4 linked regions of the Homo sapiens genome follow. The protein of the gene in region 1 interacts with the protein of each later gene in a biochemical or structural test. Each region holds a gene or a part of one and is shown on either strand. Other genes may lie near its edges. The genes, in order: SELL, CFH, PODXL2 and PRKG1.

Region 1 (8,011 bases):
AAGTAGATTCCTTCAAATGTTAGTATCAGGAGACAGATTTTTTTTTATACCAGTATTTTCAAATAGAGGCTCCCAAATGAACTTAGTTTACACTTACAAGAGTATCTCTAAACATGCCCTTTTACTTATTCGTGAAGGAAGTAGAGGGAAGTGGTAACTACTGCATTGGAAAGAAATTAGTGCAGGTCCTTGGCATGTAAAAATCAAGTGCTTATTTTTGCACAACTGCTTTAAAGTAAAAGCATTAATGATTTCCTTTGACTGGTGAATTATCCAGTTCAGATCATTGGCTTTTATTTTTCCTGAAGTTGTATTAGGCTTTTAGCTCTTCTCTGTGTTTCAGAGTTCCAGTCATTGAACAAGTCCATGGAGCTAAATACAACGATGACCATTCTTGCCAACATTTTTAGGTGCATTTTCAGGAACTCTATGAACCACAAATCTGGGCATTGAGATTCTGTAGGCATTAGACTAGCAAGGCTGGTCCAGTCTTTGCCTATGCTGTAGACTCATCAGGGGCCTTCCCATGCCAGTTTCCTCATCTGTCAAATGGCATCAAATGGGCTACTACTGGGAGATGTAAGGAGGAAAAAAGTCAAATATCATGAGATAGACTAAGGAAATAATGCTGGTGGTCTCATGCTATGTGCCTTACTGATTTCTCTTTCAGAATTGGACAAAAGTTTCTCAATGATTAAGGAGGGTGATTATAACCCCCTCTTCATTCCAGTGGCAGTCATGGTTACTGCATTCTCTGGGTTGGCATTTATCATTTGGCTGGCAAGGAGATTAAAAAAAGGTATGTGAGTTTAACTTCACATGAAAAGAACACAACTTTAAAGTGAAAAAGAAAAAAAAAAGAAACCCACAGGAAATTAAATGTGATAGATTCAACACAAGCAGGATGCCAAGCTTTACATTCTAGAGCCATCAGTCCCTGGAGACATGTAAATCAGCCCAGGACACACCTTCATTAAAACAGGTTGGCTGATTTTCGCTTTTCATCTGATAAACTTTTAAAAATGTCTATTACCTTCAAGGCAGCTTGCTAGGCTGATAACAACTAAGTGAGATATTCTAATGGTTCTTTGCTCTTATGTAATTCTTTAATACTTTTTTTTTTTTGAGACAGAGCCTCACTCTGTCACCAGGCTAGAGTGCAGTGGTGCAATTTCAGCTCACTGCAACCTCCGCCTTCTGGGTTCAAGCTATTCTCCCACCTCAGCCTCCCAAGTAGCTGGGACTACAGGAGCGTGCCACCATGCCCAGCTAATTTTTTGTATTTTTAGTAGACACGGGGTTTCACTGTGTTAGCCAGAGTGGTCTCGATCTCCTGACCTCGTGATCTGCCTGCCTTGGCCTCCCAAAGGGCTTGGATTACAGGTGTGAGCCACCACGCCTGGCCTGCTCTTAATTAATTCTGAAAAAATGACACACTATCTCTGTCCTCTAAGAGCCTACATGCCTTGGATTTCAATGCTACAATTCCACTAGGAAGTGGGTCTAATGTCCACTAAGGTTTCAAGGCACTGCTCCCAAATACCTGACCTCTTCAAGAGTCACCTGGTTCCCAACACATGGGCATTGCATTAACCCTGGGAGAAATTCCCATGTATTCTCCCAAGTATCTATTCACCAAGGCCACAGCTCTAACCAAATGCACCATATATGCTTTCCAACCATCCGTCACTGGAGAGGAAAAGAGAAGGAGGACTGCCTTGAGAAGTTAACATCTGCTGCCCAGATTATCACTCCCTTTACCTTAAGGCATGAGTGTGTCTCAGCTTTAAAGTGTGAGCAACCCACTAGCCTGCAGCAGGCCTTGGGTGTATGGTGCCACATTTGGCCAAACTCACCTGGAAGAACCATTCAAGGCTGTAACATTCATGGACATTGGGCAGCTTTTAAGATATACCTGTTTTGGCCAGGTGTGGTGGCTCATGCCTGTAATCCCAGCACTTTGGGAGGCCGAGGCGGGCGGATCATGAGCTCAGCAGTTCAAGACCAGCCTGGCCAACATGGTGAAACCCTGTCTCTACTAAAAATACAAAAATTAGCCAGGCGTGGTGGCGGGCACCTGTAATCCCAGCTACTCGGGAGGCTGAGACAGAAGAATCACTTGAACCCGGGAGGCGGAGGTTGCAGTGAGCTGAGACCGCACCATTGCACTCCAGCCTGGTGACAGAGTGAGACTCTGTCTCAAAAAAAAAAAAAAAAAAGATATACCTGTTTCAAGTTCAGGGATGATCTCGAAACAATTGCTAACCAACTGCTCTGTGTTGCCTTTCTGTGGGCTCAGTTGATTGTCATTTTAATTTTCCTTCCATCAAATTAGTTAGTACGTATTCTGTTCACTGAATATGGTATGTAAAGGTTGCCCCCTGTCCATTTACACTGGCAATTACAAAAATATTATTTATCAGTCCCTAATTGCGTGCCACTCTGATCTTATCTTTCATTTAAATTTGAGAATAGTGGGCGCTAGGTAAGTTTTCTAACCAATCCAGAAAGACAAAGTGTGTGAGGGGGGTGGGGATTGTTGATATGCAAGAACTTCATTAGCTATGTATAACCTGAGAGCACTGAGCAGTTAAAATGTCTCTGCCCTTGCTATTAGAAATTCTGTGCTGATTGAATCTCACTATCTTATAGTATTATACAGTACTAAGTACTATACAGTACTAAGTATAAGTATCAAGTACTGCATTAAGGCAAAAGAAGAATGACAGTTTTCTCCAACCACTGATTATTCTTTCCATTGAGACTTCAAATCTTGACCCCGGTTGTCCTGTCTTTCTTCCTACCTTGGGCGATGATGGCAGAACTGACGGATAGAGAACAGGGTGGGTTATTACACACTGCCCCCTGGGATAAGGTGGCTATTGTCTAAATAATTTTAAGGACTTTGGGGCTGTAAGTCACCTTAATAAGGAAGCTATTTATTTCCGAATTCTAAAATCTTTTAATAAGTGTTTGTAGAATCAAAAGAATAGAATCAAACTCATTTGCATGTAGTGAGGGGTTAGCTGGCTAAGGCTGTTTTATAAGCAAGGGTAAAAAAATTAGAGGGGTTGTTTTTAAATTTTTTACCTTGGAGTCATTTCTGTACAAGATCTCAAACCGATAACTTGAAAACTGCTGTGGGAATCAGTGTGGGGCAAACAGGAAACAGATAACGGGCAGTTAGGCTAGTTACAGTTATGCCAACAAAGAAAACAGAAGCCCCAAAAGATCACTGGCTTGGTAGGAAGCTTAGGGTATCTTTAAGATAACATTAAATAGTCTTCATCTGTGGGCCAGGCACCTTGGCTGTCACCTCTAATCCCAGCACTTTTGGAGGCTGAGGCAGGAGGATTACTTGAGCCCACGAGTTCAAGACCAGCCTGGGCAACATGGCGAAACCACATCTCTACAAAAATACAAAAAATTAGTCAGGCATGGTAGCATGCACATGTAGTCCCAGCTACCCAGGAGACTGAGGTGGGAGGATCACTTGAACCCAGGAGGTCAAGGCTGCAGTAAGCCATGACAGCACCACTGCACTCCACAACAGAGTGAGGCCCTGTCTCAAAAAAAAAAAAAAAAAAAGTCTTCATTTATAAAACAACATCTTCCATTTTCACCAACTTACAAATGATTCTGCTTTCCAAAGATTTTAGTTGTAGGTTGGTCCTTTAAAACATGAAGAGTATTTTTCCTATGGAGGCAATGGTAGAAATAATGGCTACATTCCCAGGCTAAATCTAAGACAAAATATAGTTAATGGCATTTACAAGGATAAAAGTAAAAAGTCATAAATCTCTATGTGTGTGTTTAGGTGTGTGTGTGTGTCTATGTGTGTGTGTATATGTATATATATACACAGAGAGAGAGAGAGAGAGAGAGAGAATTTATAGGCTTTTTGGGTTCTAATAGTTAGAAAAAGGGCACAGGTAACTATTTAGAGCATGGTAGCCAATGAAGTGACTAGAGCCTTCACCCCTATTCTTCTGTCCTCAGATGAATCTTCTGACTCTAGCACTTTGTCCCCTGCCCTAGTAGTCTTAGTATGGAGACTTTCCCTCCTTTCTTTTAGGAAAGGAATAAGGAACAGTTCCAGAAACATGTGTCCTTGTGCATGGGCTCATCTAGACACATTTTGTGCACCAGGCATTATCATTTTCTGATTAGTCACTACCATTGGCCCTGTTTGGTAAATAAGGAAACCAGGGCAATGATGTTTTAGGCCAAATCTCAAAAATACCATATCAGCAGGACCCAGAGTCAGAGATTAGACTCCAGTCCAGATACATCTTCTAAAATCACTGGTCTTCAGATTTGTGAACTGGTTTTTTCCTCGGTTGGAAGAATTTCCCACCAGAACCAACACACAGGGTTAGACCAGGGCATGAAACTGAACACATGCCCCCTTAGTTCCTTTTTCTTCAAAATGAAACTCTCTCAGTAGGAACAGATTCTTACTCATCTATTGCTGTTAGGTTCATCATCCCTAAAAAAAATATTTATGTGAAGCTAACCAGAATCTGAAATTAATTCAGATTTGATTCCCCCTGCTCAAGTGCACTTGGTCATCAGCAGGCTGAATTTTAGAAGAAAAGATTTCAAATAGTAGTCTTTAATACTTTAAAGGATTAAAACAGTAATGCAACACTGTCTACGTGCTAGGACCTGAACTAAATACTTGGAAATATTTTATTTTATCAACCCAATGAGGATGATACAATTATTATGCCTCTTTAACAGATGAAGAAATTGTAGTTTAGAAAAGAAAGTAGCTGTTCAAATACACACTACACTACAGGTGGCAAAATAGGGCTTTCACCTGGGTAGGATGATTCTAGAATGCCACTTTACAGCCACTGAAATATATTGCCTCCCAAATGATTCTTTCTGCTCAAAGAGTTTTTTTTAAGTTATCTACTTATTTATATTCTGCTTTTTTCAAAAAGAATGTGAGAACAGTACAAAATGTGTTCAGTATAGCAAATTAAAATTAATTAAAAAGTAAGAAAAAGAAGCCAATTTGGGCAACCCACTCGGGTCCCCTTCCACGCTGTGGAAGCTTTGTTGTTTCGCTCTTCGCAATAATAAATGAGCTTGATGTTTTATTGAGTACAAAAAAAAAAAAAAGAAAGCCAAATTTAAACTTAGGGTACAAAAATCATTTGGAACCAAGGTTGAAGTTATGGCACAAAAATGTATGTCACAAAGTTTTATATACTTGGTAGGAGAGGGTCTCAGATCTAGCTCTGAGTTTCCTTACAGCCAGTCAAAGGAGAACCATGTGATATTCCTTGTGTTTGTAAGATAAAAACACATTAGTTACTCAGATGAGGCTGCACAATTCCTACCAACAAGACCAAAGTGAAATTCTCTTGTGGATTCTCATAGAGATGATGCTGTGAGCTGTAATGGCACATAGTTTTACAGTATTAGCAGCTGTCCCTCAAGGGAAGAATCTGCAGGTAGGATGAGATGGCAGATTGGGAAGGGATAAACACTTGAATGGACATATTGGGTCTTGCCACCAGGCAATTTAGCAATTCTGTCTTCTTGAGTAGCACGGAGAATGGAATGGAACCTCAGGAGGCATCTGCATCAACATGTCTGTTCTGTATTAGTGTCTACCACTGTTTATTAAGCCAGTTCCTCAAATCTCCTTTGACACAGATAGGGTCCACCTAACAAATACCTAATATACTTCAAAAGACAGTTTTGAGAGTGGGAGTCTTCCTTCTCCCTTACTTGAAAAACTTTAAATTGTCTAATTTTTGCTAATGCCTTTTCTCTATTTTCTATTTTCAGGCAAGAAATCCAAGAGAAGGTAAGTTTTATTAGTGGCGAGGAGTTTCCACATCTGCTGATTCATTCTCTACTTCCTTAAGTTACTTCCTGCTCTAGCTAGACACATTAACCCCATAGTAGTTTATTTACCTGGGGTCCTCATCCAAATGACCAGATAAGGTGATAAATCTACTAGCTTCCTTTCAGAGCTGTGCTTTTTGGTGCTAGTGGAGCTGAATGAATGAATGAACGAACAAGTAATCCCTATTAGAAAAGGGCAGTTTATGTAAAGGGAGATTTTTCTGATTACCTCAGAATTTTTTCTGAGGGTTAAAAACATTGTGGTGTGTTCTTCTTGTTCTTAAATATATTATTTAAGAAATATTCAATTGAACAAGCACTTATTGAGAAATGAATAAATGCTTATTCAATTGACTATTTGCATTCAATTGCTCTAACAGGCATTGTCCTTCAGAAATGTGGGAAAGATAGGGAGCATGAATTCTACCTACAGCTTCCCCAAGGAGGCAAGTATTTTTCAGTTTGGTCTTGAAGCTCAAATTTCTTCTACTGGAGAAATAGCACAGTGGGAGGAGATGCAGACATGTGAAAGTTGATGGCCCACCTGGCAGAAATGAAGATGGAAAAATATTTCTCAGTATCTAGGGTTTAGTGACTTGCTCTGGAATTTTAGGAAGGAGAGTTTAAGTAAAATAAACTATGAAAGGAGGACTTTGGTGACATATTCAGTACCCAGCTGGACAACTGAGCTTCCTTTAAAATGCTAGAAATGAAGTGAGATGATTTCTGAAGGGATTGGATGCTGGTTTGGGCAACCATCCTACCAATCACAAACTTAGTATGGGCCATTGCTTAGAATGCAAAGGAAAAAGTGGGGAAAAATGAGGCACCAGAAGCCAGATCATAAACTAATGTATAAGCCATGTGATATGGGCTTTATCTTGAGGTCTTTTGGGATATCACTAAAGGGGTTTAAACAGTGAGTAGCCTTACCTCTGGCATCTTATAAGGTCACCCTGCAGAGCAGTATGGCAAGTGTGGGAGACAGGTGAGCCTGGATTCAAAGAGACTTGTTTTGGAGGCATTTGCAGTTATTAGATTAAAACCGATGGCGCCTGTCTAGGGAACTAGTAGTAAGAATGGGTTCATGAAATAAGAGGAGGTGATATTAACTGAATGTGTCTGTTAATTGGCTAAAAGTGAGAGAGAAGAATCAAATTATCATCTTTCTCACCTGGAAACTGGCGGATGGTAGTCCTGTTTACTTCTGAGAAGGGAACATAAAAGAATGAGAGGTTTTGGAGGTAAAGATCATGGGTTCAGTTTTGTACTGAGCTTTGGGTGTATGCACATCATTCACTGTGGCTCATTGGACCTATCCAAAGCACAGAGGCTATGGCAGGAGAAGTGGATTTGGGTCCCTCACATTTCAGGAGGTAACTGCCATCTCAGGAGTGGGTACTATCATCCAGGGAGGGTGTGAGTGCTTTAAGAATGGAAGAGGACCTGGGAGAGAGTATGGGAGCCAGAGGAACATCATTATCTAATAAGTCACCTAAGGGAAAGAGAAATGAAAAGATGTTGCCAGGCAGGGAGAAGGAAGAGGAGAAAGAGTGTGGGGTAATGAATGCCAAGGAAACAAAGAAAGGGGAACGGTTTCAAACATTGCCAAGAGAACCAGTAAGTATCCCCTGGATGCAACAAGGGTGTCAGTGGGGAGACTATTTGCAGTGCAGACATCAAGACAGAGGTCAGACGGCCAAGCATTGAGCATTACTGAGGATGAGAAAGTAGAGACAGAACAAGCAGTCATCTCTTTTAAAATGTTTGGCTGTGAAGGAGAAGTGGGGCAGGGGTAACTGGATGAGGATGTACGATCAGTGGAGGTTCTTTTTATTCTTTTTAATTACTCTGTCTTCTCTTTACTAGTGCAAATGGAGTCTAGTGAGGAAAGGCTTCTTTCTCTGGGCTGGTCTCCCTATGTCTGTGGCAGGAAACCCACAGATGTGAAGATTTCTTTCAAACTCGCACCTACTGAGTGAAAGTATTTTCTGGCACAATCTACCCAGAGCTGTTTTCTGGCTACCGGAACCACCTGTTTTAATTGCCACTAGATGGAAGCAGATCAACTAGATTTTTTTTTTTTAAGATGTCCTTGAGGCACAGGAGGAGAGACTGGCTGGAAGAATATTAGCAAAAAGCTAAT
Region 2 (8,644 bases), about 27 Mb from region 1:
TTCTCTGAGTCCTTTTTCCTCCATCTATTTTAATACAACCGCCAAAGCACCATTACTTAAATAATGCATGACTTACATTTCTTCCTCAATTAGATCTATCAAAGATTCTTTATTGCCTGTAAAATAATTTGCAAGTTTTTGATCTGGAATTCAAACCATTCCTCATTTAAAGCTCCTTTTACTTCTTCCACAATTTCCTTGTGCAAAACCACTGCTCCAATGTGAGTCTTCTCATTAATTCTAGATTAGTCCCCACACTTTCCTATTCTTCACAGTCTCAGTGGTACTCTTCCCTTAAACTACAGTGTAATATCCAAGTGTTCTTAAAATCATCCCTGATCAAAACCAGTGTTCAGTAATTTCTCTTTCTTGTAAACTTCCTTCGAAAATTTTAATCATAACAGTCATTTGTTACTTAGCATAGATATTAACTATTTCTAATTTTTTAAATATGGATTTTTCTCTAATACAAATTTATATCCTTACTCTTCTAAATTTTTAATGTCCAAATATACATAGTATGTATTTGCTGAGAATGTGCCAACATGAATATTGAAAATAAATTGGATCCATTTCATGTTTAATCTTAGTATTAATAGTTAACTATTTACTATCTGGTCTTTCTAATGGTAATCTAATACTACATAATAATTTTATGAGTTTAAGGCATAATATGTTGCTAATTTTCTTATGTTCTGAATTTCTTTATAATAGACTTTTGTAGTTTTGAAAAGTATTGATGAAAAAAGGGAAACAAAAACACTCAATTGACGTTAGCCATCAGTCTTTGAAAAAAGGTAGGATAAAGAAAAAATAGTAAAAATAATACATCTGAAAGATATTTGTTGAAATTAATTCAAGAGGATTATTTCTACTTGGATAGTAGAGTGGCATTTTACATTCAACAATTGCAAATTAGGTGAAGATTTGTATAGCAAAATCATTCCTGTATGTACTTTAAATTATCCACAAACATATATATGTGTGTGTGTACCTTCAATACTTTTACAGTATATGCATAATTGTAAAATAAATAAATGTGAAGCATACACTAGAGTACATATGTGAATATTTTACTATATTTTTAAACACATATTTTAAACACAGACCACTGGATTTGATACCTGGCTCCAGCAATGTCTTGTGACCTTAAGGGAGTTGCTAAAATGTTCTGTGGTTCAGTTCAGTCATCTATACCTTTGAAAGAGTAATAGTCTCCCATTTCATTGTGTTGCATTAAGTATTGAATAAATGTGCTTAGATCTGTGCCTGGTATATAATTAACACTCAATAATATTAATCTTAGTAAGTTTCTGGAATACTCTCCAAGTGATAATATTGCTATTAGAATAGAAACCACTATTGGAAATTTAAGCCCCAGGTAAAATGTTTGGATTCATACTCAAACAGATAAAACTAAGGAAGGAATAAAGAAGAAGTTTAAATGATCTAGTATGTCAACATATGTGTTATCAGTTAAATCAAATTAAACTTCAGAATGATAGTTCAGAATTCGAATTTGCTTGATTATTCATATATCCATGCTATTTTATTTCTTATTTTTCTCAGAACAAATGACTAAGTCTAACTCTTATTCCTTATATTTTTATTACAAAAATAAAAATAAAAATAAAATAAAATGTAAAATTCACATTGGAAGCAAAATTAGAGTTAGGGTGGGCCATTTAATATGAGAAAATGACCAATGCAAAAGAAGGATATCACAATTCTAAATACGTATGCAAGCATCATCATAGCCCTAAAATATATAAAGATTCACAGCATTAAACAGGGAAATACACAAATCCACATTTATAATGGGAGATGTAATACACCCTTTCAATATCTGATGGAATAATCAGACAAAAACATAATAAAAATACAAAAGATTTTAACAAATTACAAACTTGACCTACTGACATAGGTAGAATTTTGACTATAATGGGCCATAAAGAAAGACTCATCAAATTTTAAAACAGTGTAATTATTTAGAATATGAAATTAAAAAAGAAATCAATTTAAAAGATAACTAGAAAGCCAAAGTTCCCAGAAATTTACACTTTAGAAAAGTTTTAAAAATAAACTATTACAGTAAGAAGAGCTTGGTGATATAGACCCACACATATCCAGCACCTGACTTATGACAAAGGTGAAAGCATGTCAGTACAGAGGAAAGAATGATACTTTCGTTGAATAATGCTATAACAATTGGATATCTCTATTTTAAAAATGCATCTGGAGCTTTTTATTATGCTATACACAAAAGACAATTACAGTTGTTCTAAAGGTCTTAAATGTGAAAGATAAAATAATTCTTTTAGAAGAAAAGCATTGTGTTCTAGGACTAGGCAAGCTTTCATTAAATAGGACACATAATGCACTAGTCATAGAAAAAAATTGAAAATTTGCTCTATTTTAAAATTAAGGAATTCTTTTTATTATTATAAAAGACATGTAATACTGAATAGAAAGAAAACCCACAGACTGGAAGAAGGTATTTATAATACATATTAATAAGATTATTTTCATATCTAGAATATATAAGTAATTATATATAAACAGTTCCTACACTCCAATAAGTCAAAGACAAACAACTCAATAAGAAAAAAATATGCAAAGGATTTGAATAGAACCTTTACCAAAGAGGGTATCTAAATGACCAGTTACCACAGGAAAGTTTCTCAACTTCATGTTAAGGGCAGGAGACAGGGAAATACTGGGTAGAAGAGGGTGGTCCCCAAGCAAAGGCCCCACCCTCAAGCCTGAAGACCTGTGGCCCTAAATGAGGACAGGCATTTCAGGTTTCACACCCAAAAAGTTGCCTTTTGGCCCGCCATGCCCCGCTGTCGTACCCCCATATAAATCCCAAACTCCAAGCTCCAGAAGAGACCTACAAGTGAGGAGACGGAGAGGCAAGCCGACAAACAGGCCTGCGATGGCAGAATGACACAGCAGAGAAAGAGAGGAGGGACATCTGGACTCCGAGGGGAGTTTGGCCAGGGACGGGTGGAGAAGAGTCTGGCCACTGGGAGGCCTGACACTGGGCGAAGGTCACCTTCCCACTCCATCTTGCTGACAGCCACCTCCACCACTCAATAAAAAGTTGCCCTCATCCCTCGAGCCCCCGTGTGATCCGATTCTTTTGGGACACTGGGCAACAGCTGGGGATATAGAGGGCTATTTCACTGTCCCACTACCCATGAGATAAGGAAGAGGGTTTGTTGAGCTGATTAACACATAAACCATTTGCAGATGGCAAAGCTAAAGGAGCACACTGTAACATACGCCCACTTGGGCTTCGGAAATCGCAGACACCCACCCCTAGATGCTGCTGTGAGGCCAGAGCCCGAAAGCGCTCACTCCGGTTCCCGCACCGGTGCATCTGTGTGCTCCCCCTCCCCGTAAGGGGTTTGAGCTGCAGGGCGACCTAACTGGCAAGCCGCACACCTGTTGCATGTCCTTCAAGGGGAATCAGGGATCTCTCACATTTCAATTAGTCATCAGGAAAATTCATATTATAACCACGGAGAATTATTGCTTTGTGTTACCAGAAAAGCTAAAATTACAAGGATTAAAATTACCAAGTATCTCTGAGGGTATGGAGCAACTTGGACACTGCTGATAGAAATGTCAAGTGATGTCAAGTGTTATAATCCATTTGGAAAATTGTCTAATTTTATCCATTACACCTAAACATAAATTATGTCCCAGTGTTTCACTACCAAGTATGCACTTACCAGAAATGTGGATTGTGTTTACCAAAAACCTCATAATATAAGGCCCATAGCAGCACTATTCATACCAGCTCCAAACTAAAATCTGCTCAAATGCTCACTAACAGGCACACAGATAAATAAAATGTGAACTATTCAAAAAGTGGAGTATTAAATCGCAATAAGAATGAACTATCTGTAACTACATCTAACAATGTGTTTGAATGGTCCAAACACAATTTTTGGTGAAAAACTCTAAACATAAGAATAAACTGCTTCTTTTTCATTATACAAAGTACAAAAGCCAGACAAATATATTCCATGTTCTTGAAGATCAGAATCGTGGTCTCTGTGTGTGGGGGGTGTGGGAGAGGGTTGAGAGGCGTATTGACTGAAAAGGAGTACTGGGGTTTTCTGGGATGTAATAATGTTCAGTGTTTTGACCTTGGTGGTGGTTTCACAGGTATCTTTACCTTCTCAATATCCAGCATATGATTTATGTTTTCCTTATACATATTACACTACAATACAAAGTTTTAAAAATCAGCATTTCAATTTGTTGATTTTTGGATTATTAAACCTATTTACGTCAAATGAGAGTGAGCCAGTTGCTTCATACACATATACAAAAAGTATTTAGAAAACTAATTTCATAAATTGCTAGAAAAGCAGACCCCCAAATTCATCAAGCACTGCATTCTTGGCAAAGTTTGTACACATTGTCTGGGTGCTGATTGTGAAAACATTGCCTAAACCAAAGTTTTGTATGTGATTTCTTTTAAAGTTTCTCTTATTTCCTGTTCTGAGGTTTATACACAATAGACCCGAATAGAGTTTGAATAATTGAAGGGTTTATGAAATCCAGAGGATATCACCAGCTGCTGATTTGCACATACCAAGAACATGAACATTTTCCAACGGAGAATTTCCCTAGCTTAATAAGAAAAAGTCCAAGAGCCGGTCACAGCATTAACATTTAGTGGGAGTGCAGTGAGAATTGGGTTTAACTTCTGGCATTTCTGGGCTTGTGGCTTGTGGTTGATTTTTTATTTACTTTGCAAAAGTTTCTGATAGGCGGAGCATCTAGTTTCAACTTCCTTTTGCAGCAAGTTCTTTCCTGCACTAATCACAATTCTTGGAAGAGGAGAACTGGACGTTGTGAACAGAGTTAGCTGGTAAATGTCCTCTTAAAAGATCCAAAAAATGAGACTTCTAGCAAAGATTATTTGCCTTATGTTATGGGCTATTTGTGTAGCAGAAGGTAAGATTAAAAGAGACTCTTTTCTGAAAACTGTATTATGAAACATTTGCTAATGATGCTTTTCACAGGAGTAATAAAAATTTGATTTAGAAAATGTGCTTAAGTATTCTGTAACTTGACAATTGAGTGGCTTTTGACATTGTTGAGTTTAAAAAATGTAAGAACCTTATTTGAATGGTATATCTAAATATTCATCATAATTATATTTAATATAAAATAGAATAAAATGTTTTAATAAACATTTCTGAAAAACTATGATCTGGAATAATCATTTCCCTTGTAATTATCATAAAATGTAATTTACTTTTTTGCTTAGGAGTATAACCAAAATGTATTATGTGAAAGCATTAAGAAGGATGTGAATATACATAGTCAATAAAAGCCATCAAATCATAATGATTAGATTTATTTCAAATATGATTTTAACTCTTCCTAAATAAAAATTCATTTATCATTTACAACTGATATTGTCATGACCTTAGAATTCTTGTAGACAAGTATTACTTGTATTATCAGAATAAAAATATTATATAAATTTGAAACCCAATTGAATATACAATATTTGTAACAGTTAAGTTGTTCAATAGAGATTTTTTTCCTGTAGTTGTATATAACATATATTCTTGAAGAGCAGTCTTTTGGAGTAGTGAATATGAATGTAGGAGTTTTTTTCTGACCTCAGTAAGACAATTTCTGGATTCATAATAAAATTTAATTATATCACTGCTTCTTGATAGATTAAAAAGCTTATTCTTGGAGGAGGTTTGCTTTCCTAGTTTTTGATAGGTAACCAGTTATGTGATAGATATTTGGTAAACATTTTTAAACTGAATGAATTACATATTATTCATAATTTCTAAAATCTTTTCACTTAGTAAAGAAATTTTGATTGAGTGACCATTACATAGCCTCTAGGAACTGAAGAATATTAGCAAATAATACAAATCTCTGTTTCAGTCTTCCAATCTAGAAAATAAAAGCAGATATATTCTTATAGTTATACACTTTGGTAATTTAAAAAATATTCAAATATGTTTAATACCTTTTGAAAGGTTGAATTATTTTCAGTTATATTTTCTAATGTTATTGCTTGTTCTTTGGCTTGTAAACTTTATATGTAGCCACTTTTTAAATGAAGAAAACAATTATTTCCTTGTACATATAAATATTATAATTAGTATTTTAAAATGAAACCTTTTTGTATTTACAAACAGTTCCAGAACAATGTCAATATTACCTATTGTAAAAGACATCTTTTTCTGTTTCTTTGTGTAAATATTTCTGTCTTTTCTTACTAAATTTATGGGAATGTTTCTAACGTTTCATACCTACATACTGTTTGCTCCAGTTTTACATAGATACCATTTGTCATATAAGGGAGATTTGTTTTATTTCTAATCTTTAAAATCAAGAATCAATGGCAAGTTTAATAAACAGTTTAAGTTATTAAAAAGTTGAATTTGAAATATTATTAAAATAGAGTACATCAAAGTATATGTGATAATTAAACAATAGTGATTTAAACATCTTATTTACATAATTGATTATTGCTGACTTGTTTCACTTTTATTTTATTTTTCATCAATGTGTGTTTAAATGTGGTATCAGTTTCTACTGGTGAATTGAACATCGGCACTATATATGTTATGGTGAAAATGATATAAATCTGATTATTTCCTAAAAGATAAAGCACAACTTTGTATTTAAAGCAATGCTTAGGCCAGCCTCATAATTTTCATAAAAGCACATGTAATGCAAAAGCCAATGGAGAAAAACTACATGAATTTTCAGTGGATATCAGACTCCTAATTTATTCCTTGTTTCCCAAATACTCTCTGAAACTAAACTAGTTCGAGATGTCCATCAGTTCTATTAATCTACCATATCTAAAAAATTTTTACTTAACAGAGTAGCTTTGATCATGAAAAATACTCACATATATTTCAATATTTGCTTCTGTTTATATTTTCCACATTGAATACTGAATACCAAATTGAGAAGATAGTTTGAATACTATCACAATCTGCTTTATTCAACAGCATAACATTTTAGCATTACTTCTGCTCTGTTAAGAGTGAACTTTCTTCAAAAAAAACACTATTCATTACTAAGAAAGAATTATAGCCAGCAGGAATAATTTGTAATTTCAGCTTTCTATTTGTTTTCTTTTTTTAATATATTGGGTACTACATAGAACCTTTCTAATGCAATATATTGTCTACAATAACATTTCCAATTGTGTAGGAACGTTAATTGCCTCCTTGTTTTAACAGTCTGGCTCAGGGGGTCACTGCAGGCTACTAAGAATTGGGTCAGATTTACAGGACAAAGTTTAAAATAACAGTTTCTCAATCGTACCACCTAATTTCACCTTTTTGAAATATAGTATGACCAAGGTTTTGAATATATTATGACCAAGCAGATTTTTTAGATTTAGGGTCTAACAATTGTGTACTATATGAAATTAGGCCACAGCCCAGAAATTCCAAGATGATTAAAGTGAATAAATTAAAACTCTACTGAAACATGTTCAAGTAAATACTGGCTGTGTTGTTTGGGAGACATGTTTTTTAATCCTGGAGATTTAGAGTGCAGAAACGTTATTTCAGGTCCCAGAAGACTTTATAGATCAGAGATTGATGGATTCCATTACAGTCAGAGAAAGGAGAATAGTGGTCTAAAATCCTAAATTGTATGTTTGAATTTCAGTGTGATAAATAAGAATTCCCCTTTGCTCCCCCAAACCCCCATATTTTCAGAGATAGTAGTATGTGTATTTATCTATATGGTGTGATTTAAATTGTGCGATGGCCCAATTGGCTTCAATATCTCATCTCCTCCTAAAATACTTTACGTGTTGATATTAATATTACTATAATTTCAACCAATCTGTCATTTACATGGAATGACAAATACACTGAATACATATTTTAGGATAGTTAAATTTAGTATTATTCATAATTTACTTTGAATTATTATCATCTGACAACTTCCCTGAAACAATTTCAGTGGGCGGGGGAGGGTAGAAATGGATGTTGATGAGGATAAGAATAGAACAAAGTGATTCTGGAAGATGGGGTTTTCCCAGGTAGGACAGATCTGCTGGTTGAAGTGCTATAGTGAGTGCTATAAGAGAAGGGGTAGAGAAAATGCCCACAGAAATGGCACGAGCCTGAGACGTCTGCCAAGGCAAGCTTTGCTTATTTTAAATTTAGGCATATCCTGGGAATGCATATGCTACTCTTTTGCCTACATATAATTTAAACTAAAAATGAAATATCTAAGTATTGCTAACTAAAATTATTCTTAGGTAGAAGTAAGTTCCCAAATATAAGTTCAAAAGCAGATTGGTAAATGTTCTTCATGTGTGGCCTTTGGTTTCTAAGATCTGAGCCAGTCTACATTGACCCACTTTTATTTGCTTAATCCTCGATTGTTTATTCTGCAGTCTTTTGCCACTTTTCATTCTTCCCAGTTATGCCTTCTCCTCCTCCCCACACACACCATCCCCCACCTGCCTAGGCCTTTGAGATTCTGCCACCCAATCTATCCCGTGCTCAGTTAACTAACGTGTACTTTACCCATTTCTTCACAAAACCATAGTACATGGAAAGGGGATGATGTAATTGACAAAAAAGTATTGCATTTTAGCTTAAAATTATAAGGAGTC
Region 3 (8,011 bases), on another chromosome or scaffold:
GTTCATTGAAAAGCCAGAAAACAATCTGATCTCCAGGAAGTCTCCTAACTTCTCTGCTTCAAAATGTAATTCCCAAGAATGGCAGGGAGAATAAAAACCCCTCTCCCATTGCCAACAGTGACCCTGAACATTCTGGGAGGCCCTGGAAAACTCTGGGCTCAGCCCCTGGCCTCTCTCTGGCTCTCCCTACATCTTTTTCATTTCCTGTCAGGGCCTAAATTACAGAAAAAGAGCACAGTTGAGGAACAATGGTCATAATTGAGGGGTCTCACTTCCTCCAGTGATGAGAGGGCTCTCAGACCTCCTTCGGGGACTCCACCAAGAAGACTCTTATAACGACTCACTAGAAAAGGAGTAGGGGGACCCTTCCTAGTGGGTTGTTGTGGGATCTTCTTGGTGAAATCCCCAGATGAGGACAAGCAAGCACATTACAAACACAGTGGAGAATATATACCTCAAACTACTCATGGCTCTTTTGGAGGAATGCAATATACAAAACTTTCTACATTCCTGTGTTCATTGAGTTTTGGTGATAAATTTGTATTATTTTATCATCATAAAGGAAACAGTGACTAGCCTTGTCCCTGTGTCCTCCCACAGTCTGCTCCCCTGGCCTCTCCATCATGACCTGATGACCCCTGCCCTGTCAGTGTATTGTGGTTCTTTTATGCCATCTGCCCAGTAAATACTGAGTAAAGCAATGAATGATGAAACAAGTGAATGAACTTTTCATCTCTGTCCTTAGATTATGTTTTTCCTGACTTAACTGAGAAGGCAGGTTCCATTGAAGACACCAGCCAGGCTCAAGAGCTGCCAAACCTCCCCTCTCCCTTGCCCAAGATGAATCTGGTTGAGCCTCCCTGGCATATGCCTCCCAGAGAGGAGGAAGAAGAGGAAGAGGAAGAGGAGGAGAGGGAGAAGGAAGAGGTAGAGAAACAAGAGGAGGAGGAAGAGGAGGAGCTGCTCCCTGTGAATGGATCCCAAGAAGAAGCCAAGCCTCAGGTCCGTGACTTTTCTCTCACCAGCAGCAGCCAGACCCCAGGGGCCACCAAAAGCAGGCATGAAGACTCCGGGGACCAGGCCTCATCAGGTGTGGAGGTGGAGAGCAGCATGGGGCCCAGCTTGCTGCTGCCTTCAGTCACCCCAACTACAGTGACTCCGGGGGACCAGGACTCCACCAGCCAAGAGGCAGAGGCCACAGTGCTGCCAGCTGCAGGGCTTGGGGTAGAGTTCGAGGCTCCTCAGGAAGCAAGCGAGGAAGCCACTGCAGGAGCAGCTGGTTTGTCTGGCCAGCACGAGGAGGTGCCGGCCTTGCCTTCATTCCCTCAAACCACAGCTCCCAGTGGGGCCGAGCACCCAGATGAAGATCCCCTTGGCTCTAGAACCTCAGCCTCTTCCCCACTGGCCCCTGGAGACATGGAACTGACACCTTCCTCTGCTACCTTGGGACAAGAAGATCTCAACCAGCAGCTCCTAGAAGGGCAGGCAGCTGAAGCTCAATCCAGGATACCCTGGGATTCTACGCAGGTAAAGTGAGGGGCATGCGGGCCACCACCCTGTACCTTCTTCACAGAGCCTGGCCATCCCCAGGGCTAGTGTGGCATGGGGGCAGGATCTGCCAGGTTGAGGAGGGAGGCCCTTTCCACAGCACGTAGAACCCCATGGAACTTGTGGGGATGCAAACCTCAGGGCCAACAATGGGTGTTCTCCCCACACTTCTGTGCAAAGGCCTTTGGAGAAACTTGGTGGCCTGGCCTGGGTTTCATTTGTTCATGTGTTACCATTGCCACCCTTAGACATCTTTTGTTTTTTTTTTTTCCCGAGATGGAGTCTCACTCTGTCGCCCAGGCTGGAGTGAAGTGGGCATGATCTCGGTTCACTGCAACCTCCACCGCCCAGGTTCAAGCAATTCTCATACCTCAGCCCCCTGAGTAGCTGGGATTACAGGCATGTGCCACCATGCCTGGCTAATTTTTGTATTTTTAGTGGAGACAGGGTTTCACCATGTTGGCCAGGCTGGTCGGGAACTCCTGACTTCAAGTGATCCACCCGCTATGGCCTCCTGAAGTGCTGGGATTACAGGCATTAGCTACCGCACCCAGCCCACACTTAGACTTCTGCACTGATTCTACCAGCAGCTAGAGCTAGTGGCTGACCTGTGCTTTCCCCATCCCATCTCACCACCCTCCTCCTCCCCACCGACACCCATGTGCATAGCAGGCACAAGTCAGTGTTCACACCCACTGACACCGCAAGGAAAAGAAAGGAGCCCCAGAATATTAACAATAAACTTGCCCTTGAAAGCCAGCATGTGGGGCAAGCTCTCTGCAGCCTGGCCCCTTTGATATAGTCCCCTACTTCCTGGGAATAATGCCTGGCCTCCTCCTCTCACTCAATACATTCCCTGCTTGGTCCCCAAAGACATTCGAGTTTGTACTCCTTGGCATGGTGCCTCACAGAGGCTGTCAGCAGCCCCCTCGCTGTAATACGCCTCCACTGGCCTCCACCTTCCAGCTTCCCAAAAGGCCTCCGACCGGGGCTCTCTCCCCTGTCCCTTTCCTATGCCTTCGTAACTGTCGCCCTTCTTTCTGTCTCCTCGCACAGGTGATCTGCAAGGACTGGAGCAATCTGGCTGGGAAAAACTACATCATTCTGAACATGACAGAGAACATAGACTGTGTGAGTGCCCAGCCAGGCTCCGAACCGCAGGGAAAGGCTGCAGGCAGTGGACAGGGTGGGGCAGAGGGCAGGCTGGGGGGACAAGCAGTGCGTGGGAGAAGGCTTAGTCCTTCAGTTGGTGGCCCAGGGATATACCAGCAGCCATCAACATTACACACAGAGAGCTTTCGTATTTTAAAATGTCCAAAGGCTCTTTGGTTCTTGCTTCCCTCTCTTTTTAATTTAAATGAATACTTTGTTCATGTGTGCACCATCTTACCTCTCCCGTGATATTGAAACCTTTCTGTCTTTTTTAGAGTTGTTTTCTTCCTGTATAGGTTGCTTTTCTCCGTTTTGGGTCTCAGCCTTTTCATATATATACATGCTCTCCACACATGTCTGGTGGAGTTTGTTCATAGCTCTCTCTATCGAAAAAGTGGCTGGAAGCTTTGAGCATAGTGCTAGGGTTGTCAGCTATGGCTTCTCATGAGAGTGGTCTGGCTGGGCCGTATCACTTAGAAATTTGCAATGGCAGCATTGTTAGGTCCTTCCTCCTGAGGTGATTAGAGTCTTTGAAAAGGGAACTTCTGTTCTGTTCGAAGTATAACAAGTTGGTTGTCAGTGTTCTGGGAGCTGGGGTGGAGAGAGAGGGCTGGGTGTTTCAGTATTATAAATATGTATCCATAAATATCAATATTCATGTACTGTCTCTTCCTGTTTGCAGAGTGACCTTCTCCCTCCCCAAAACACACACTTGTGTCTGATGCTCTCTAGGTCAGAGACCCTCTGTTTTATCTTTTTTAAAGAATAAACTTCCAGTCTTCTGCCAGGGAGAAGGGACATTTCTTGGCTGTGCAGCACTGCGGGAAGAACTAGGGACCCAGCCGTTTCTTAAGCAAACTTTCGACCAGCTCATATTTTTAGTAGCATTTTCATCCCCTCTTCCAAAGGTAACCAGGGCCCCTATTCCGGGGCATCTGGGGAGTGTCAATCAGTATGCATCTGATTGCTTCTCAGCTTTCCTCATTTTGGCTTAGGGTTTGGCTCTTTAGAGTTTGCTAAATTAGGAAATTCTAACTCACCATCTGCTTCCAGTGTCTAGATTTTGTTGCTCTTGTCTCCTCTTCTGTTTTGCTTTGTCTCTGGTTTTAGGCCTTAAATTCTTTACTCTTGTTAGTGGGCCTGGGCAAGACTGAAGGGACATGCATGCGTTGAATCCAAAAGTCCCCAGCAAGGTTGGTTTCCCCCACCATCACTATACTGATGGATCTTCACCTAAGTGATGTGTGTTTTCATCCATTGCAGTTATTATTTTTACTGATGCTCAATACCTCATCTTTGGCCAGGGAAAGCCTCTTTGAGTTGGCCTCTGAGTCCTTTTGACCAATCTATTAAGTGTCTGATTGCTTCCTTGCTTTCTGGCATAATAAGACATTCCAGGCTCACCTTCCTCCCCCAGACATGGAGCCCTCATTCCCTTCATTGGGAAATGGTACATGAAGACCACAGATGGGTACTTGGGACCCTTGAACTTTTGGTGTGCATACTTGAACAATACAGCCTAAAGTTCGTATCTTTTTGCCAATCAATACATAGATATTAAGATGCTTTTATTCTGTTTTCCCTGTTTTTGTCTTCTGTGTTATTCTAATATGTGACCTCCACTCAATTAGTCATCATTATTTTTTATGGTAGATTTTTTTTATTGTAGTAAAAAACATAAAATTTTCCATTTCACCCTTTGTAAATATAAGTTCAGTTGTGTTAAGTATATGCACATTGTTGTGGAACAGAGCCCCAGAACTTTTTCATTTTCAAAGCTGAAACTCTGTACCCATTAAATGACTACCTGTTCCCCAGTCCCGGCACCCACCATTCTCCTTGCACCCACCATTCTCCTTTTGGTTTCTATGAATGGGACTACTCTGGATACCTAATAGAAGTGGAATTAGACAACATTTGTCATTTTTACATCTGGTTCATTTCACTCAGCATAATGTCCTCAGGGTTCATCCATTTGGTAGCATGTGGCAGAAATTTCTTTTTTTTTTTTTAAGGCTGAAAAATATTCCATTGTATGTATATACCACATGTTATTTATCCATGCAGCTGTCCATGGACACTTGCATTGCTTCCATCTTTTGGCTATTGTGAATAGTGCTGCTGGGAATGTGCTGTGCAAATATATCTTCAAGACTCTGTTTTTAATTATTTTGGGTATATACCCAGAAGTGGGGTTGCTGGATCATATGGTAATTCTATTTTAAATTTTTTTGAGGAATCTCCATACTGTTTTTCGCTATGAGTATACCATTTTACATTTTCGCCAGCACTAGGGTTCCAGTGTTTCCACATCCTCATAAACACTTGTTCTTTTCTGTTTTTTTAAACAGTGGCCATCCTGAGAGAAGTGAGGTATTTGGTTGGTGCAAAAGTAATTGCGGTTTTTGCCATTGAAAGTAATGACAAAACCCGCAATTACCTTTGCACCAACCTAAATGGTCTCATTGTGGTTTTGATTTGCATTTTCCCTGATGATTGGTGATGTTGAGCATTAGTCATTATTATTAACAGTCAATGCTTACTATATTTTATCAACATACTTATTAGTTTCTTTGCCAGATTCACCACTTGTTAGAATTTTTTCAAACCATTTGAGAAAAAGTTGAAGACATTATTTCCTTTTGCCCCTACCCCCAAATACATTAGTTTGTGTTTCCTCAGAACAAGAATATTCTTTTAGATAACCACAATGGAATGGTCAAAATCAGGAATTAGCACTGCTACAAAACTATTATCTGATTACCTACCTTATTTCAATTTCACCATGGTTCCAATAATGTCCTTTATAGCCTTCTTCCCTCCCATGCCGGGATATAATCCATGGTCATGCATCACATTATTTGTCTTGTCTCTTTAGTCTCCTTTAATCTGGAATAGTTCCTCGGCCTTTCTTTGCATTTAATGACCTTGACTTATTTGAAAAATGAAAGGAATAAATGTGCATAAAAACTGATGGGCTATACAGAGACTACATATTCAGAAAAAGACAGGGAGAAAAGTGCTGGCAGTCTCTTGTGGAAAGTTTTACACGATGGAACTACAGGAGTTCCAGGAGTTCAGCCCTCAAGATCTAGAGAAAGTGATGCAGGCTCAGTGGCTTCTATTTTACCTAGATGTCACAGGTAACATAGAAGAAACTGGAAAGAAGTCTAAGAAGGAAACATGAGAGGAGGAAGAAAGATAAAACAGGAAATCCAGAGGTGGTGTTTTTGAGTTCTAGAAGGCAAAAGAAATCCTTACTGTAGAGATGCAAGGATCTGATCCTTTGTCTAGCACAACAGAGAGAAGTGCTAGAGGATAAGGACAAGGAGGAGAAATATGTGGATCATCCTTTAGTGAAAATCCTGAAATAGAGCTTCCATGCAAAGGGCTGGATCATCAAGATCTGGATAAAGAAGCAGCGTTGACACAGTGATGAGGCGCCAGTCCTTTGCCTGAGGCTGCAGAGTTTCTCAGTGCATGCCACACACGTGCTTACAAGATGTTCCAGGCTGCATGGGACTTTCCTTGCCCCAGCCCCCAATTTAGCCATTTCTGCAAGGAGTCCTGCTTCCTTTTAATGAGGAAAGGTATTTAGAAACTAAGATCTGGGCCCCAGGTGTGCTCATGGCTACTGGGGTGTCACTGCTTCTAGGCCCTTCTAGAAGAACTGAGCAATATGGATCTTTATTTCTGTCTCTCTCTAGGGCATAGATATACATATATCATGTATAATGCATGTACACATATTAAAAGTACAAATTCAGTATTTCCAATTCTAATCCATCACCACTGGATGATGTCCTCCTGTGCTTACTGCTACAAACTTTAGATCTGTAGTCCATCTGGAATTAGTTTTGGTAAATGATGTCAGGTATGAATCAAGGAACTTTTTTTGTTTTCCATGGGATATCCAGTTGTCCCAGCACCTGTGATTGAATAAGTACTTTACTTATTCACAGTAAGGTAGGGTGTCAGGACCATTGCCCATGTTTTTAAATAGGGAAACTGAGGCTCAGAGAGGTACTTCTTTTTTTTTTTTTTTGCTGACATCACAGAGAGCTGACAAATGGCAGAAGCAAGATTTGAACCAATGTATTTATTTATTTTTGTCACCCAGGCTGGAGTACAGTGGCACAATGTCAGCTTACTGCAGCCTCAACTGCCCAGGCTCACGTGATCCTCCCACCTCAGCCTCCCAAGGAGCTGGGACCACAGATGTGCACCACCATACTTGGTTAATTTTTTTGCATTTTTTGTAGAGACGGAGTTTGCCGTGTTGTCTGTGCAGGAGTTGGAACTCCTGGGCCCAAGTGATCCACCTCCCTTGGCCTCCCAAATGTTGGGATTACATGAACCAGTGCACCTGGCCAGAACCCAGATTTATTTGATTCCAAAGTCAGGGCTTTTCCCCCTTGCCACGGACATTCAGTTTTCCTGTCTACATAATAAGTGGTATGAAATCTGCAGTCATCAGATCCTCCCACACTGACATTGTGGGTCTCTGGGCTTAAGCCAGGCAGACATATGTACCCAGGAAAACATGGGGTGTGCAAACACAGCAGAGCACAGAGCCACAGCACAGAGGGCAGGCACTTCATGTGGCAGGAGAGTGCTTGTTTTGTAACCAGGGGTCTGTGGGTCATGGTGCATGGACCCTTGCTCTGGCAGGGGCGGGCATGCACTCCTTCTCCCCCCATACTCAATCAGTGAATAAAGTAAGAACCATCACAGAACTAGGGGTTTCCATCTGCTCTATGGCCATCTCCAGGTACCCATCTTCTCCCACATTTAAAACTCAGTTGGCTGGCTATTAGACCAGTGAGTGCCAAGGCTTGAGCCTGAGCCTGGCATTTGCCATGGTAACAAAGAACAGAGGCCCAGCATTTCAATCCCTCTGGTAGCCTTTAGGTTGGCATGACAACTACGGAACAGCTCATTAGCCTGGGCTCTAGCAGAAGGGAGATTTGGAGTGGCAGGGGATCCTGCAGGGCTGGCCTGGTGAGATGCTCGTGCCTCCCAGTGGCGCTGGCTCTCAGCTGCATAGCAGGGCACTGTGAGAGAGCTGAGCACCTGGGAGAGGGGTATCTGCAGCAGGCTGTGGAGGCTACGAGCAGGGAATGTGTGACTGTGCATGTTCAGGAGGGAGAAGGCTGCTGGGGAGGAGCCGGAGTGAGGAGTGGCCACAGGGCCAAAGGAGGGTATCTTCCTAGATGGGGCTGGGCAGGGACAAATGGCAGGATGTGAACCAGGAGGCAGGGTTCTGGCCTGTGCCCCAGCCTGGGCTCTTGCCATTCGTTGAGTTTCTGTT
Region 4 (8,023 bases), on another chromosome or scaffold:
TACTTTTCTATCAGTAATGTGGAAAGCAAAATTTGAAAATATTTATAAACTAGAGAAGCTCAGATATTTTGAATTGAATAGGGTGACCAACTCTCCTGGTTTGCCCGAGACTGGAAGATTCTTAGAACTTTTAGTTTTAAAGACAGGACAATTTCAAGCAATTTTAGGATTAGTACAATCTCTGGCAAATGGGTTCAAGTTACTTACCCTGAGCCAGAATGTAATCTTGTTGAAATAAAGACAGGACTGTTTTGTGAAAAGGAACTTTTTGAAAACCTTGTTGCTGCTCTTTCAGGATTTTCCAAATTTGTCCTCTTCACCTCCCTGACCCCTAAGTCAAGCAAGTTGATGTTAAAGACACTCTTCTCTCTCTGGATACAGAATAGGACAGTAGCAACACTTATAAGTTCTGCAGAAAGTAATGAGGGGTAGGGGCCTCAGCTCTACATCACCTAGTCTGGATATGAAGCCAGTCTTTGCCATTGATTAGGTGAATGATTCTGTGACTCCATTTTCTCTAATATTAATAGAATATTAATAATATTGAACTTATAGGGTTGTATGAACAATACCTATCATGCATTAAGAAGTCAAGGAAGTTAGTTAATTTTTTGTGATCTTGATTATGATTAGCAACTTAGAACAGACCGTCATGTCTGCCAGTAATAGCTTTAAAATCTAGATTCCTAGGAGGACTTGTTACTTTTAGCAATCTTCTGCCAGAGGAAGCTTCTGTCTCCTGAAAGGCTCAGCTATATATTTGTTTGTTTATTTTTTCCCATTCAAGATATACACATGAAATGACAGAAGAAAATTTCAAAACTTAAGATTCTTCCAGGAAATACAGTGTCAGTGGAATGGATAAGTGGATAAAATTAGCACAGTTCTTTTGGGCTAATTATGTTTTTAGTGAAGGATGACAAATTCTACAGATTTATTTTTGAATAGCCAGTATTATAATAAAGCTACTTTATTGGAATAGCTCATTAAATGATTCTGAGAATCCATTAAGGAAGGCATGTCAGTTTTTATTCTCAATTATGAGGATTGGGTGCAAGACTAAAGAGCATGTTGGAGTTCAACAGGCCACAGTTTGGTCTGGCTACCAGTAGAACTTTGCTTCTATTAAAGTTATGAAAAAGGAAGACTGCTGAAAAACAGGTTGTGAGTTGTTTCTGGAATTCTAGAGTATGAAGTCAGTTCCTTCAAAATTGCATTGTTCTAACTGTTAGCATCTAATGTCAAAGCTTCATCTCAGATAGGCAGTGGGGCAGGGCTCAGATCAAGCCATTCTCCTCTACTCTATCCCTGAAGGAATCTGAGGTAGACACTTCCTAATTAGCAGAAAGTAGACTTGTGCCTGATCTTTGATCTTGTAATTTAGCCAATTAAGTTTACTACATGACACTTAGTAAAGATAATTTGTCTGTTAAGACGTAATTGCAGGACTTTGATTTTTCACATAGGGTTTATTTCCAGCATTTACTAAGTACAACGCAGAAGATGTTTAAGAAAATATTGGAAACACTCAAAAGGTTGAGATGGAAACCTGGTCGCTCAAGATCTAAACAGCTGGTCAAAAGCATCATTGAAAAACATACTTAAAATATTTATTTTTACTTTAAAAATGAAAGAGAAAAGGCTAGAATCCTGGATTTTGCATATGAAATTATAAAGCATTTAAGGGGAAGTCAATTTAAAAAAATAACACAGCCTGAGATAACTAAATATATTCTATTCCTTGAACACCTTTTAAAGTCAATTGTAAAAGTCATGTCTTTTCAGCTTTTTACTCTATTTGTGTTTGTTATAACAGATTCCTGACTCTCAATATCAGATTCATCCTGGAACAGATTTTATATCATGAGATGTAAATTTAAAATGAAAATGTAATGTGTATACATCCTATAGTTGCATTTAGATATGCCAGCTTAAATACTGATAAGTATTTACATAATTTAGTGTAAAAAAACTCACTTTTTTCCAAAATGCCTAAATATTTTTGGTTTTTTTATTTTTGGGGAAAGTGTTTTAGTTTTTATTTTCCTTTGTACATGTAGACAGACTTTCTACAAATGAGGAAGAACCTTCTCTCTTTGTGCTGCTCAAAAACATTAAGTAACCCCATTTAAACCCTAAATAAACTCTAAAACATCAATGAAAAACGTATTTAAAATATTTGTTTTCACTTTAAAAATGAACGAGATGGCTGGGCACAGTGGCTAATGCCTATAATCCCAGCATTTTTGGAGGCCAAGGCGGGCAGATCACGAGATCAAGAGATCGAGAACATCCTGGCCAACATGGTGAACCCCGTCTCTACTAAAAATACAAAAACTAGCCGGCGTGGTGGCGGGTGCCTGTAGTCCCAGCTACTCCGGAGGCTGAGGCAGGAGAATCACTTGAATCCAGGAGGCGGAGGTTGCAGGGAGCTGAGATTGCGCCACTGCACTTCAGCCTGGGTGACCAGAGCAAAACTCCGTCTCAAAAACAAACACACAAACAAACAAAAAAAAAACAAAGAGAAAATCCTGGAATTCTGAACCCAGCTTAGCAGTTGTCTAATTATGTCCTCTATACATTGTATCTGGTATATTTTTAGACATAAACTCATGGCTTCATGAACCCCAATAATAGATCTATAGGAAAAAGTCATTTTGTATTCAACATTTTCCCATGGAAATAAAGAATTCCCACAGGTTAAATAAGAATTTGGCCTTTTGCCCAGAAGAAGGAAATTTTCATGGAAGCTTTTTTAGAATACAGTGAGTTATACAAAGTCACAGTACTTCTGCTTGGTTTACTTTTAATTAAAACAACAGTAATTCAGAGCTATTATTATTTTCAATATTTGTAAGTTGCTCATTTCTTCATTGCAAAAGAAAATGTTTTGAGAATGATCCATTTTATATATCACATTTAGAAATAAATGCACTTCTGAAAGTCTGTGTTGGAAAGCAGAAAAATGAAGTGTCTTGTGTAATCTGCATTAAGAGAATTACTAGATCATAATCTACATAAAAGAATATTTAGGACTATATATTTTGTCATTTAGTCCTCTAATTAAAAACAAGGACACTTTAAATGAACAAGCTTGTTAAGATACCTTGACCTCCCTCCCTCCTTTCCTCCCTTCCTCTGTCTCTAGCTTAAATACAAAAAGTTGTGTATTCAAAAGCAACAGTGTGCAAGTTATTTTGATACTATTCTTTGCTAAGTTTAGAATTGCATTGCAATTCAATTTTATTTTCTGTCCACTTTGTTTTAGTGTTAAGGAATAACCAAATAGAGCATTGAGGATTATAATATTGAGTGCCCAAGAATAGTAATCAAAAATCTGCCAATAAAGATGCTATAAAATTGGATGAGTTCGTAATGTCTTAAGCAAATATTAGGGATTTAGGTACGTATTAGGCAGATATTTGGGGATTCTAAACATGTGTTCCCATGATGGGAGTGTAACACTTGGATAGAAAGGAAGTTACCTAATTGTGATCATTTTGGGGAATATTGAGTGGGCAGGGATGAGGGTGGGAGTGGGTAGAGGTGGGGGTGACTGCAGTATAGTGTACAATTCACTGCAGCCTGCGTGGTCTCCCTCGCTCCTTCACGATTTTCCCTCTTCTTCAAAGTTTGTGTCAGGATGTCTTCCTGGCCATTCAAGTGGAAAGATACATTCCTAACAGCTTGGTTGTGAGGAAAGTAATATTTTTAAAGGTATGATTCAGTTTCAAGATGAAATTTTTGGAGCTCGGGAATGATTTTTAACCCCCACCCTCTCCCCGCCAAATTCAGCAAATGGAAGAAGCAAGGCCCATCCGAGAACTATTCCCAGGCACCAGCTCAAGGCGGAGGGCTCATGGGGAAGCTGAGTGACCTGCTAGGGCCCAAATCCGTTTTTGGCCTTTGCCCTAAAACAGTTCCCCGATGAGAGTTTGGAAGGGGCAGAAAGGAAAGTAACTATCTGGAGCAGGCGAAGAGTAGCAACGCCTCGGGTGCTAAAATCGGAAACCCCACCCCCTACCCCACAACCCTTTCCCAAAGGTAGTAGGCTGAAAGGGGGAATTCCTCGCGGGCGCCGACTCGCTCGCATCTCCTGAGAGGCAAGTTTCTTCGCAAGCGTTAGCCACCTGTGTGAGGCGCTCTGGGTGGGAAAGGTGGCGTGGGAGAAGCGACAGCTCGGCCACACCGCTCGGGAGCTTTCCTTAGTGAGGCCGGCCGTCAAAATACCTCCAGAACTCAGAGCTTTGATGATGCAGAGTCCCCTATGCCTCGTACGTCGCTAGGATCGTAGCTCAACATTCTCCAGGCTGGTCTGCTCTGGAGTCAGCTGAGGCCTCCCGAGTTTGCCCGGGGTCCTCCCTGTCCCCTCCCTCCCACCTCCCCACCCCCGAAGTAGCGCTCCCGCCTCGCTCCACCCGCACACCCCCGGCGCGCCTCGGAGGCTTATCAGGCTCCCCGCACGCCCCGCAAGCTTCCTTGGGCGCCCGGCGCGAGGGACTCTGAGAGCCCAGCCGCTGCCTCGGAGCCCCCATTCACGTCCCCTCCTCCCGCTCCCCCGCCACCGCGCCTCCGACTCTTCTCCCCCGCGCCGCGGCGCCCACCGCGTCTCAGGTTTAATCCCGGGTTGGACCTGCTGGTTTGCTCTCCCCGCTCTGAGCCTCACAGCCAGCCCAGAGAAGTGGAATCTGCACTGAAACTCTGGGTGGCTGGAGCCGGCGGACTGGGCATGCTCAGAAGCCAGGGCTGGCTTTGGTCTCAAGTAGGAAGCTTTGGCACTCGGGAGGCAGCGGCGACTTTGGGGAAAGTTGATCGGAGAGGGGAGGAAGCCTCAAGACGCGGAGCAGCGGCAGGAAGGAGCCCCCGGCAGCCCGGAGGAGCATGGGCACCTTGCGGGATTTACAGTACGCGCTCCAGGAGAAGATCGAGGAGCTGAGGCAGCGGGATGCTCTCATCGACGAGCTGGAGCTGGAGTTGGATCAGAAGGACGAACTGATCCAGAAGCTGCAGAACGAGCTGGACAAGTACCGCTCGGTGATCCGACCAGCCACCCAGCAGGCGCAGAAGCAGAGCGCGAGCACCTTGCAGGGCGAGCCGCGCACCAAGCGGCAGGCGATCTCCGCCGAGCCCACCGCCTTCGACATCCAGGATCTCAGCCATGTGACCCTGCCCTTCTACCCCAAGAGCCCACAGTAAGCAGGGGTGACGCGCCGGGTCCATGTGGCGCCCTGGCGATGGGGAGCTGCGGGTCTCTGTATTGTCTGTCGGCCCCCGCCCCTCCCGCTTGCCATGTCTGTCCTCATCCTCAGAAATGTTTCATTTTAACGGGCACTTCTTGCGGGGCTGTGCACGTTTCTCAGAGCCAGACTCACTGCACATACGTTGCCTTCGTGTCTTTGTCAGATGTCAAGGTATTATTTTTAAATATACATATACATTCGTATAAGCCACCTAGTGTACGTAGAGTTTGAACACGTCCCAGGTGTGTGTCCGACCGTGTGTGTGAGTGTGAGAGAAGAAATAAAAAGCCCCCGTCTCCCAAAAGCCCTGGCAAACCAGCCCAGCTGGAAAATCCTAAATGCAGGCTCATCAGACTTGAAATGAAATGCGTCTGATCACCCATACTTTCTATGCTTTTGTGGCTCTCCCGGATTTCTCTACCTGCTGGCGCTTCACGCTGGTACCCTTCAAACCTGACGTTCTTGTCATCATCAAAGTGTGAAACATAAGCAAATAGGCATAGAAAAAGGAAGAATTTTTGATTTCCTGAATTGGATGACATTTACAATCCATAAATGGAAGACTAGTCTGTTGATTTTGAAGAAATATTTTTTCATAACATATGAGGGAGAAGATTGCTTATTTTACTTAAGAAACGTGCATAATGTTACTAATGGAGCATCTCCATCTCCCAAGAGGTGGTTGCTTGTTTCCAGGGTCAGATACAGATAAGCACACTTATCTTATTTAAAACGTGGACCCATTGTTTGCCTTACTCTTGGCTTCTAATGCAACCACTCTGGCATTGTTCTAGCCTTTTAGGGAACTGTGCAATTCTGATGTTAGTGGGCTTCATAACTTGGATGGGAAAAATTTAATGAAACTTGTTATACAACACTCAACTCAGAGTTCATATGGAGAGTAAAGCGACAGGAACATGAGGTTAACAGAATGTGGGAGAGCACCCAAAAGAACGGCATTTTAAATTAATAGATAATAACGTAATTGATAAAACCAAGGATATTGCTGCTTACTCTACTACTAACGAAATCACATTGGCTGGATGGCACGTGTTACGTAATAATGCAAGGTCCATCGAAACCCTTCACTTCATAAATACAACAAGTTAATATAAGGAGAAAGTAAATATTTGATTATCTCTATTTGTATTTATTGGATGTTTTTTGGGGAGAATCACAGCATGTACCAATTACTACTTTTGAAAACTTAGAGTTATACCTATACATGTTGATTCCCATGGAACATTTGCTGTTCATGCAGGCTTAGTTTAGGGAGGAGTTTGTATTCTGCGAGGGAGTTGGAAAGAGACAATAAGGATAAACATTTCTGAGATTCTGACCTTACCAAATTGCCCTAATAGTTCAGCAGACTTAGATCTGCCTTAGAAACCTGAGTGATCTGAATAAACTTCAACTTTCTCTGGTAAATTAATTTGCAATCCTGACATGCCTGACTGTTTTAGCTAACGAGGTACATGACCATCTCTCCTGGGCCAAGTTTTGCATAATGAAAAAATAACTCAAAGACAGCTCTCTGCATCTTTAAACATTTCATAGGATCTCATTTTTGTATCCGCAGGACTTTTGAGTGACACAGAGCAAACTCTGCTTTTACAAAAAGACCACTTTAATAGGTTTCATAGTGAAGCATGTTGAAGCCAGCTGATAACTCCAGTTACACATTCCATCAGAGATTTACAAGATTCTAGGCAGTAGGGAATGAGCTATACAATGTGATAAGTTTAAAAGCCTCTTTGTACATGACTTGTAGAATATCTAGATTGAAAAACAAACAAACGAAAAAGGTCCAGAGTGGAAAATAAAGCTGGTGTGGCAAATAATTTACAGCATCCCATTATAATAACATTTTATCTATCATTATAATAACATTTTATCTATCAAACAACACTGTGTGTCCTGATACTGATTTCTTACTAATAACTTGTATTTTAAAGGACTCAGCTCTTAAGGTATTGCCATGATGCTTTGGGTGACTCTGAAGTATTTTATTGAGGAAAATGATAGAATGCCTTCCAAGCTTAAATAATTTTGGAAAAACATCTGTTCTTTTTTCACACTTACATAAAGAAAACTAGAAAAAAATTGGCTTGAGTAGTAGAAAGTGTACCTTTCTTAGGGAAAAAAGAAGTACATTGTATGCAAAATGAATAAATCTTATGTTGTTTGAATGGTTGTACAAGGTAGCTCCACAAAGAGTTAAGAAAACCTGCCAAACCAAAGAAGACTTGTTTGCCTTTCAATGTATTTCACTATGAATAATTTGATTACACGGACTTACTGGCAACAAGTGTTTGTGTCTTTGTATTTCATCTTTACTACATCTTAAATGTAGCCATCTTTCTTAAACATACATATAGATTATTGTGAGTTTCCAGTTAAAATGAAACTATCTAAATAGACACATTAATTTCCAGTTTACGTTCATGCTAGTTTTTGATTCTCTTTTTTTTAGATGTAGGTAACTGCCCCGCTAATGTTCTGTTCATTTATCTGATATATGCAAATATATCTGTTTAGTTTTTACTTACTAAGGTTGCCTTCTGAGGATTATAATTTTTTTTAGTTCTGGTTTCTTGGTAAATTTGGTCATTTAAAAATAGTATAAAATGTAAATTAACTTAATAACTTGAATCATTTTAACATTTTTGGCTTGGAATTTTTCCTTTAATGTGGGAATTGGAGGGAAGGTTCTGTCAGATTCCAGCACTGAGCCAGGACACTCCTGCTATAACTATGAGGTAGGAGGAGGGTTTTTATTGGTC

The links.
Region 2: the proteins of SELL (region 1) and CFH form a complex in vitro, tested with the Homo sapiens proteins (one study listed by BioGRID).
Region 3: the proteins of SELL (region 1) and PODXL2 form a complex in vitro, tested with the Homo sapiens proteins (one study listed by BioGRID).
Region 4: of the proteins of SELL (region 1) and PRKG1, one has a biochemical effect on the other in vitro, tested with the Homo sapiens proteins (one study listed by BioGRID).

What each region holds. Positions count from the first base shown.
Region 1 is NC_000001.11:169,694,348-169,702,358, reverse strand, and holds part of SELL (L-selectin precursor), read left to right. Parts: intron 1-670; coding exon 671-799; intron 800-5,805; coding exon 5,806-5,824; intron 5,825-8,011. UniProt on the Homo sapiens protein: Calcium-dependent lectin that mediates cell adhesion by binding to glycoproteins on neighboring cells. Mediates the adherence of lymphocytes to endothelial cells of high endothelial venules in peripheral lymph nodes.
Region 2 is NC_000001.11:196,647,202-196,655,845, forward strand, and holds the start of CFH (complement factor H isoform a precursor), read left to right. Parts: upstream 1-4,841; 5' UTR 4,842-4,916; coding exon 4,917-4,974; intron 4,975-8,644. UniProt on the Homo sapiens protein: Glycoprotein that plays an essential role in maintaining a well-balanced immune response by modulating complement activation.
Region 3 is NC_000003.12:127,659,633-127,667,643, forward strand, and holds part of PODXL2 (podocalyxin-like protein 2 precursor), read left to right. Parts: intron 1-745; coding exon 746-1,527; intron 1,528-2,604; coding exon 2,605-2,679; intron 2,680-8,011. UniProt on the Homo sapiens protein: Acts as a ligand for vascular selectins. Mediates rapid rolling of leukocytes over vascular surfaces through high affinity divalent cation-dependent interactions with E-, P- and L-selectins.
Region 4 is NC_000010.11:51,069,710-51,077,732, forward strand, and holds the start of PRKG1 (cGMP-dependent protein kinase 1), read left to right. Parts: upstream 1-4,777; 5' UTR 4,778-4,881; coding exon 4,882-5,192; exon of another isoform or gene 5,193-5,403; coding exon of another isoform or gene 5,404-5,411; intron 5,412-8,023. UniProt on the Homo sapiens protein: Serine/threonine protein kinase that acts as a key mediator of the nitric oxide (NO)/cGMP signaling pathway. GMP binding activates PRKG1, which phosphorylates serines and threonines on many cellular proteins.